Linked DNA regions of Homo sapiens: regions 1 and 3 are each linked to region 2. Evidence: fine-mapped expression QTL. A gene starts in region 2. Each other region holds a variant in brackets. All regions are shown on one strand. Distances are from middle to middle. Region 1 overlaps MYBPC1 (myosin binding protein C1). Region 2 holds the start of CHPT1 (choline phosphotransferase 1). Region 3 overlaps CHPT1 (choline phosphotransferase 1).

Region 1 (2,852 bases), 93 kb after region 2:
TGCTGAGTTTATAGGCATGAGCCACCATGCCCAACCAATTTTAATTTTTAATTCAGTAAATATATGACACACTAATACAATATTTACTGTATTCCAAATTAAAGTTAGTGTGTATAATACACTAGTTATGCACATAAACAAATGATCTTTAGTTTATTCAATAATTGTTAAGGGTGCAAAGGGATCTGAGACCAAAAGGTTTGAACCACTGGTTTTGAATTTATTGCAAATCTCTTTGGAAAAAGATTTTGTGCATGTTATTTTTAAAACAAACTCAGGTCATATATATCATATACATCTGCAGCTTTGATAAAATGAATGAATCAGTCAAAATAAAAACCTTACATTGATTTTGAAGCAATAACTCATTTTCCTAAGTGCACCATAATAGAGACAAAAGGGCAATAGTGTCTAGTAACACCTACCCTATGCAGAATTCAGCTATCTAGCAACTTACCTAACAGCTTCTGACCACCCAAATAAAAGGGCCTCTGAAGGGCCTCTGCATTTATCTCAAGCTCCTACGTTCCAGGCACTAAGAGTTTCTGTGTTTTCCTCATGGAAGAAGGCCCTAGCTCCTCAGTAAACCCAGGGCCTGGGACTTGGGAAAGGTAAGCAGGGTGCCTGAGGAGCAAAATTTAAGGAGGTCACTTAAGGGGCTGAACCTGCATTTTGGTGACCCAGAAAGTCAGTGCCTTCTTAAATGTTGTGCCTTAGGTGGTGCTAAACTCTACTCAGCCAGATTAATTACCTGGAATGGCGTCTATAATAAAGGACAAAGGGGAGTGAGGGGAACAGTTTCATATGCTGACTGACAAGAGTACTAAAGAAGACAGCACACTTCTAGGAGGGATAAAGTAGGAAAGCTAAGAAAAATTGGAAAGAAATTCAAAATACAAATCAATATGAGTCCATTTTTCAAAAGAGCAAATAATTTGGGCCCTCAGGGTGTCACATGCTACTAATAACTGATATCTATAATTTAAGACAAATTATATCCACTGTACTTTATTTTTTAAAGCAAGGAGTAATATATTACATTTTAAGAATGTTTCTATTCAAACTGGTGGAAAAAATAAGGCTCTGAGGTTATATAACAAAATTAACCTTTAGCTGTGCAGAGAATCCAGCTATTCAGAATGATTCAATCAATTTAATCCATATTTATTTACTATGGTCGAATGTTGCC[A/G]AAGACTGTACTGTACTCTAATGTTCTGAATAGATGAAGTCTAATTGTACCTTGATCATGTAAATATTCAATGACTCATTATTCAACCTTTGGAATTTCCCTGAATCTACAGGGTTTTTTTTCCTCCCCTAGTCAATTCATTCTTTTGTCCTTCTAATTATGCAAGTTTCATCTCAGGATGTCATTTCACACAGGAAGAGGATTAAAATATGGTCCTTATTACATAGCAACAAATAGCTTCTCATTGTTAACATGGGGCTGGGGGAAAATTGCTAAGATCTGAGGACTTGCCTTCCTCACTACTCTTACCATGTTTTAAAGAATCAAATGGGGTGTGTTTTGCAGGGGAAGATTTACTCAGATTGAAGGAGCTTAAAATTTTAGCATAGGTCAAAAAGAAATTATTGCAAAAGCAATTTGAATTGTTAACAGTTTCCTCCTTTACTGTGTCTTTTTTGGGGATCTTGAATCAGTTATTATTGTTATTATTATTTTGAGACAGAGTCTCACTCTGCCACCCAGGCAGGAGTGCAGTGGCATGATCATGGCTCATTGCAGCCTCCTGGGCTCAAGTGAATCTCCTGCTTCAGCCTCCCAAGTAGCTGGGACTACAGGTGTACACCACCACATCCAGATAATTTTTGTATTTTTTCATGCTGTTTCACCATGTTGCTTGGGCTGGTCTCAAACCCCTGGGCTTAAGCAATTCTCTGGCCTTGGCCTCCCAAAATGCTGGGATTACAGGCATGAGCCATTGTACCTGATCTTGTATCACTTATTTATGTGGCTATAGGGTTATAGGATAAATTTCTTAAAGGCCTTGCTCCAAACTGTTGCTGGACCTCACATTGGGTGACTTTTTAAAAATAGAGGAAGAAGAGTCCTGACGCCAGGTGGGGTCATAAAAATAAAATTCCACCGCAATAAACACAGTGACACTCAATCAATCACCCACCACATCCATATGTGGTCATGGAGAGTTCTTTATGTGGTCATCTCAGGAAAGCGCAGACTGAGGAAGACCCTATCCACCAAAAAGCACCCCTGATAAGAGAGAGAAATCTTCTTTTTTTTTTTTTTGAGACGGAGTTTCACTCTTGTTGCCCAGGTTGGAGTGCAATGGCGCGATCTTGGCTCACCACAACCTCCGTTCTCCCAGGTTCAAGTGATTCTCCTGCCTCAGCCTCCTGAGTAGCTGGGATTACAGGCATGCGCCACCATGCCCTGCTAATTTTGTATTTTTAGTAGAGATGGGGTTTTTCCATGTTGGTCAGGCTGGTCTCAAACTCCCGACCTCAGGTGATCCTCCCACCTCAGCCTCCCAAAGTGCTGGGATTATAGGCATGAGCCACCACGCCTGGCCAGGGAGAGAAATTGTAAAGTCCCACAAACCCAAGACTTATAACCCTTGGAGACAGACATAGATATTGTTCAACTCTGTAGGGTAACTCTTTCATCTAAGTGGGAAAGGCCATGTCCCCACAAGAACAGTGAAGAAACAACCCAACCGTTATCACCTTATGCTGACAACTACAGACCCCCGAATTGGACATGGCTCATTTCAGTAAGAACACAACAGAGGTCATGGAGTATAGACCTTTTATTTGATCTGAGCTTCTATGGGTGAAAGCGAAGATGTATCACCACAAGTAAAAGAAGGAAA
Region 2 (2,796 bases):
TCCACTGTATTTCTGTTAATCCAACCTCAACCTCCATGAGTCCTCCACAAGGCCTACACTCAAATGATTATAAAGGGACTTCACTATTTGGAGCAGAGAATAGAAAGTAATGTCACAGAATGTGCAATGTAATATTTATCCCACGTAGTATAAACTATAGATGGGAGTGAACTCCACTCTGCCCCCTATCCCTCCACACTCAGCCCAAAGGGTGCTTCTGATGAACAGCTATCCAAAGCCTATATTTACTCCTTATTTTGTACAAAGGTCAAATGTAATTATTGCTAATAAAATGTTGGGGTTTTTTTAATCCCTAGGTTGTGATGACAAAAAAATTATTGCCTTGATAACATTCCAGTTTGTTTTTCTTGAAAAAGTCGATGAAGCAAAGAGGAAGTTACCTCTTAACTCATCTTTGATCAGTGCTACCGGTCATTTCAAGATCACTAGCTCAACCTTCCAGAAACGAACGGTTACGAAAGTATTCAAAGGGCGTCTCGGGCTTGGCACAAGTCCCTGTGCCAGGCAGGACGGAGATGGGGGTGTTCAGTCCCCAGTGTGCAAAGCACCCGACCGCGGGTCCGTCTCACAGGTTGGCGCCGCATGGGATAGCGGCTGGGCAGGCGCCCTCCGGCCCGTCCGCGGCCGTGGGGAGGATCTGCGCGGACATAGGACCTGGGGCAGTGACCTTAACAGCCCCTCCGCTGCCCAGGGGAGGCTTGGGATGGTCACGGGATTGGGATAGTGGCGTGACAGTCTCCAGGCGGCCCAGGGCGGACACCGCCCGGGGCAGTGGCCAGTCCGCCCCTCCGGGGCCCGGGAGAGGCTCAGCCGCGCGTGGGTCCGCCCTTCCCCCGGCGCCTCCAGCGACCCGCCCGCAGCGCATCTGGGGCCCGGCTCGGGCGATCGGCCAGCCCTACCTCTTCGGTGGCCGTGGGACAGTAGGAGATGAGCACGAGCGTGGTGACCACGTTGACGGCGAGCCCCAGCAGGGTGATGGAGTTGGGGGCCATCCAGAGCGGGATCCACTGGAGCAGCCAGGTCCAGTAGAGCTGCAGCGGCGGCTCGAGCAGCGAGACGCCCGCCGCGCTGTAGCGGTGCTCCTCCAGTCGCCGCAGCTGCGCCGCGCTCAGCGGCTCGCTCAGCGCCCTCAGCCAGCGCGGCGCGGACCCGGCCCCGGCGCCTGCCGCCATGGCCGCCTGAGGGCCCCGCCGCCGCCACCGAGCGCAGCCCGCGCCTGGCGCTGGGGGCAGGGAGAGGTGGAGGGAGAGGCTGGCGGCCGGGTCCTGCGACTGCCGGGCTGGACTCACCGGTCGGGCCCGCACGGCGGAGGTCGAGGTCAGGCCGGCCTGCCCGGCTGCCGGGGCCCCAGCCCCAGAAGCTGTGGGGCCGCGGCTGCGGCTCGCGGGTGGGGCGGGGCCTCGGGGAGGGGTCCGGCTGGGGGCGGGGCGGAGGGGGTCCTGCTAGGGGCGGGGAGGCGGGTGCCGCGCTCGCGGGTCACCCTCGGCGCCCGCCAACGGCAACTTGTTATCGGCGATCAAGGTCCTTGACTCCCCAGGGGCCGGCTGCACTGCGCCTGAGGTCTGATGTCTTAACCCACGGCGTCGGATTACGCCCTGAGGTCGTCTCCTCGCGGGCTGCACCACGACCGAGCCGGTTCCTCTCCTAGGGGTCGGAACACGACTCCGGTCGCCCAGTGTTAGCCACTGCAGGACCACGCTGCCCGCAGAGCCTGGGGGTTTTCGTGTGAGAACACAGTTTTGCAGGGCTCGGGTCACGGGGGTGACGGCCCCATCTGTCCTGCTTGGTAAAACACACAAGCACAATTCTCCCTTTCTGTACGGAGGAAGGCGGCCCTGCCATGTATTCGCTCTAGAGACCCATCACTGCGGATTCAGAGACCAAGGTTTTGAAACTGAAAATCAGGGCTTAGAAACACTAACAAGGAGACCGAATGGCTGAAACCCCGATACCTATTTTCTTCAGCGCATTTGATACCAACAAGGGTGAATATTTTTACACATACTCTTCCCTGGAATAAAGGGCAGGAGTGTCCTCCCCCTGCAAGGGGGAACAGGCTGGCTTGCCACACGCATTGGTAGGTCACCGGCCCCTTATCTCACAGTGCACTCACTTGGACAGGGGACATCTGTCATAAACACGTTCTGTTGCACAACCTGAGACAGGCCTGTCACTTGCTTTGCTCTTCACTTCATGGCTCTGATCTGCACGCACTTTCTAAGGCCTAGGACAAGCCAGAAATTGCTTCCAAGACACTTGTGTGGCGCAACCTCTATCGGCAAGTGCAGTTTGCCTCACGGGCTTCGTCAAACACTTGGCACAGGGGTCCACGAACTGCTGCCTGTGTGCCAGACCCAGCCCACCACCTGTTTTCCTACAGCCCTCCAGCTAAGTATGGTTTTGACATTTTTAAATGATTGGAAAAAATCAAAAGAATACAATTTTGTGTTGTGAAATTATATGAAATTCAAAGTTCAGTGCCACGAATAAAGCCATGTTTATTCCTTACCTATTGTTTGGCTGCCTTCATGCTACAAGGGCAGCAGAATTCAGTTGTGACAGACCGTATGGCTGGCAAAGCCTGGACTATGTCCTACTAGGCCCTTTAAGGAAAAAACTGGCAACCACTGCCTTAGAGCAATGAGGGTCTCTACAGACCAAGCGTATATGTCTTAGGAATATGGATCTCCTCATCTTTAGTGTGAAAAACGATGCTGACAAATGCAGGAAAGGAAATGGAATGATGGAGATCCACTTTTAACAATGCTGGTTTAT
Region 3 (2,500 bases), 29 kb before region 2:
TAAGTACTATTCATCCTTGTAAGAAAGTCCTTATTTGGGAAGTTTTACCAATAGTTAGTTAGAGGCAAAATAAGTACTCCAGTGTTTTCTGTGTACTTAATTCCCATAAGTATGTTTTTTTGCTTTTAAGGAATATCATCTTTCACTGTTTTCTTCAATATACCTTTTTCTTGCCTAAAACAGATGTAGTACACAAATTACTCCTTTTTTTTTTTTTTGATTACTTCATCATATGACATATGGTCTGTTGAACTATTATATAAAATTAAAAATAAATAGGGTCAGATGGGAATCTGAAGATTTGGATCCCCAGAGATCTTTGTGATAGTTCTAGTAGTATTCATAATGAGTAATCTAAATACATTTCAATTAGAGTGGAAAGATAAGTATCAGTACCTAATGTACTTAGTGGTTGAATAACTTTTACTTATTTTATCCCTTATCACCTCAAATGAGTCAGTGTGTACTTAAAGTAAACTTTTGTATTCTAAAAGGAAGATTTTTTTTACCAAGTAAGTTTTTCTAAGTTACTAATTTTCTTACATGTCAACTGACTCTTAGCTACTGTTTTCATTTTTCATGAAAGGGAATATTTAACATCCACTTTTCAGTGACAGTGAAATTTTAACTCAAAATATCAAGGAACAAGTTACCTTCAGTATAAAGATTCGTATGTTTTTCTGAACTGGTACAACAAATTCCTTTTATTAAATACAAATTTTATTTAAAAAATTCCTGTAGCCCTTTTAAATTCTAGTATACTAAAAGCAAGTATTTTATAACATACTAATATGCCTCTTGAAAAATGATTAGTATAAAAAATTTCTTAGAACATAACTTGATTCAATAATTACATTATAAGCCATGCACTTAAGCAGTATTGAATCACTTTTCAGTTTTTAGCAGTCAAAGTAAGCACCCTCAAGATGGCTAAAATCCTTTATGTTCTGAATATTTATGTAATCCTTTGGCAGTGAAAACCCTGTGTCTGATAAGTCTCAGAGACAAACTGCTACTTAGAATTACAGGGGTTCACTGTTGTCCTCAGGATTGACATTTCTTTAGTCTTGTTTCTAATTAATATGTAGACAATTCTGAGAACATCTGTGATAAAAAATGATGATACAATGGGGGCTTCATAACTGAAATAAGACACAATGAAATCTACAGGGTTTATGTTTTATATTCAAATATAACCTTATT[G/T]ATGGTATACTAGCCTCCTGCACAGGGGGATTTCCTTCACTCATAGATTCCCCTAACTTCATCTCCTCTTTTCCTTGGGCTATTAGTCAGTCAATATGCTTGTGAACCTGTTCAGGTGCTTGATGACATGCAGTCTTGAATATATTTAGATGAAGGTGTCTTGAAATTTGCAGGCACAAAGCACTAAAGTATATCACCATATCAAATGAAGAAATCACCTTTAGAAGCAAAAAAGAAAATATAAAATCGATTATGATCTATCTTTTCTCAAGTAGCACTATTCTGTTTCTCCCCCAAATATCAAACCTTAACCTAAAATTCTTCACCAAAAATACTACATTTTAAAGCACTTTAATACATTTCAAATTTGGACCTCACTGTAGTCCTCTGGAAAATGCAGGTTATTTCACAGTTATAGACACTGAGGCTCAGAGGTAAAAAAGACGACTAAAATACAGAAACTAGAAAGTAACAGAACCCAACTCTCCTGACTCCACATTGTTTCAACTTCCTGCTGTGCCACGAAGCTGCAAATTTCCTTCTAGAAGAAGTTATCAGTCATCTTATAATGAATTAATTCCATCATATACATTTCTGTTTCTTTGAGGTTAGTTGTAAGAAGGTAAAAGGTCTAGAAAAGATACCATACTTGAAGCATATACAGAATTGTGTTTACAAATTTAAAGATGGCCTCTATTTAGAAACTTTGCCCAGAGTCTACAGTCAAATGCTTCTCTTCAGAAAATGAAACCCAGGAGAAAAAGGAGACTCATAGCTCTGCCCTTGGAGAGGGAATTCTCACCCATGAGGGGAAAATCTCTATCATTTATGTTAAAAGCTTACTTGAAAAGTACCACATTGTGTGTGTGGCTTTTTTTTTTTTTTTTTGTCATCCACATAGTGTTTTAAATAAAAATTGAATTTGACTTCCTCAGTTTACCAGTCTCCATCACAGGTGTAAACCAGGCCAATTACTCGTTACGACAGATGATTGATTTTTTTAACACCTGGTATTTTAATTCAGCAATTCCACTTGGTAATACATACCTAAGTTCACTAAAAGAAAACTTACATTGAGTTTTTAGATATTTTGATTAATTATCCCCTATTTTTTAAACTGGATTGTTTGGGAGCCCTAAAAATATTTATAGTGGATACCAAATTAAAGGACATTATTCTGATTTTTAAACATTTTTTTTTTTAATTTTGCCTGAAAACGTTCATTGTCCACCTCAAAGAATTAAGTATATCTCACTGCCACCATAGGAAGAATGAAGACTTCTGAATGGACTATGAA

What was found. PIP is the estimated chance that this variant, and not a neighbour inherited with it, causes the effect.
Region 1: its variant is the best candidate, but not a certain one, in a credible set for the expression of CHPT1 in esophagus mucosa (GTEx, PIP 0.88).
Region 3: its variant is the best candidate, but not a certain one, in a credible set for the expression of CHPT1 in stomach (GTEx, PIP 0.50).

What each region holds. Positions count from the first base shown.
Region 1 is chr12:101,602,763-101,605,614 of GRCh38, reverse strand. The region is part of intron 1 of MYBPC1 (myosin binding protein C1); the gene reads right to left. The region is part of intron 3 of LOC105369938 (a long non-coding RNA gene); the gene reads left to right. Among named protein-coding and RNA genes, the nearest start is that of MYBPC1, 9.2 kb to the right of the region's middle. The variant A/G (reference allele first, on the strand shown) is at 1,190.
Region 2 is chr12:101,696,259-101,699,054 of GRCh38, reverse strand. CHPT1 (choline phosphotransferase 1) reads right to left here and starts at 1,415. Exons shown (of 9, transcript NM_020244.3): 1 at 921-1,415. The coding sequence starts at 1,193. RefSeq lists silencers at 682-871, 1,132-1,471 and an enhancer at 1,692-1,941.
Region 3 is chr12:101,725,215-101,727,714 of GRCh38, reverse strand. CHPT1 (choline phosphotransferase 1) reads right to left here. Exons shown (of 9, transcript NM_020244.3): 8 at 1,311-1,421. Among named protein-coding and RNA genes, the nearest start is that of SYCP3, 13 kb to the left of the region's middle. The variant G/T (reference allele first, on the strand shown) is at 1,204.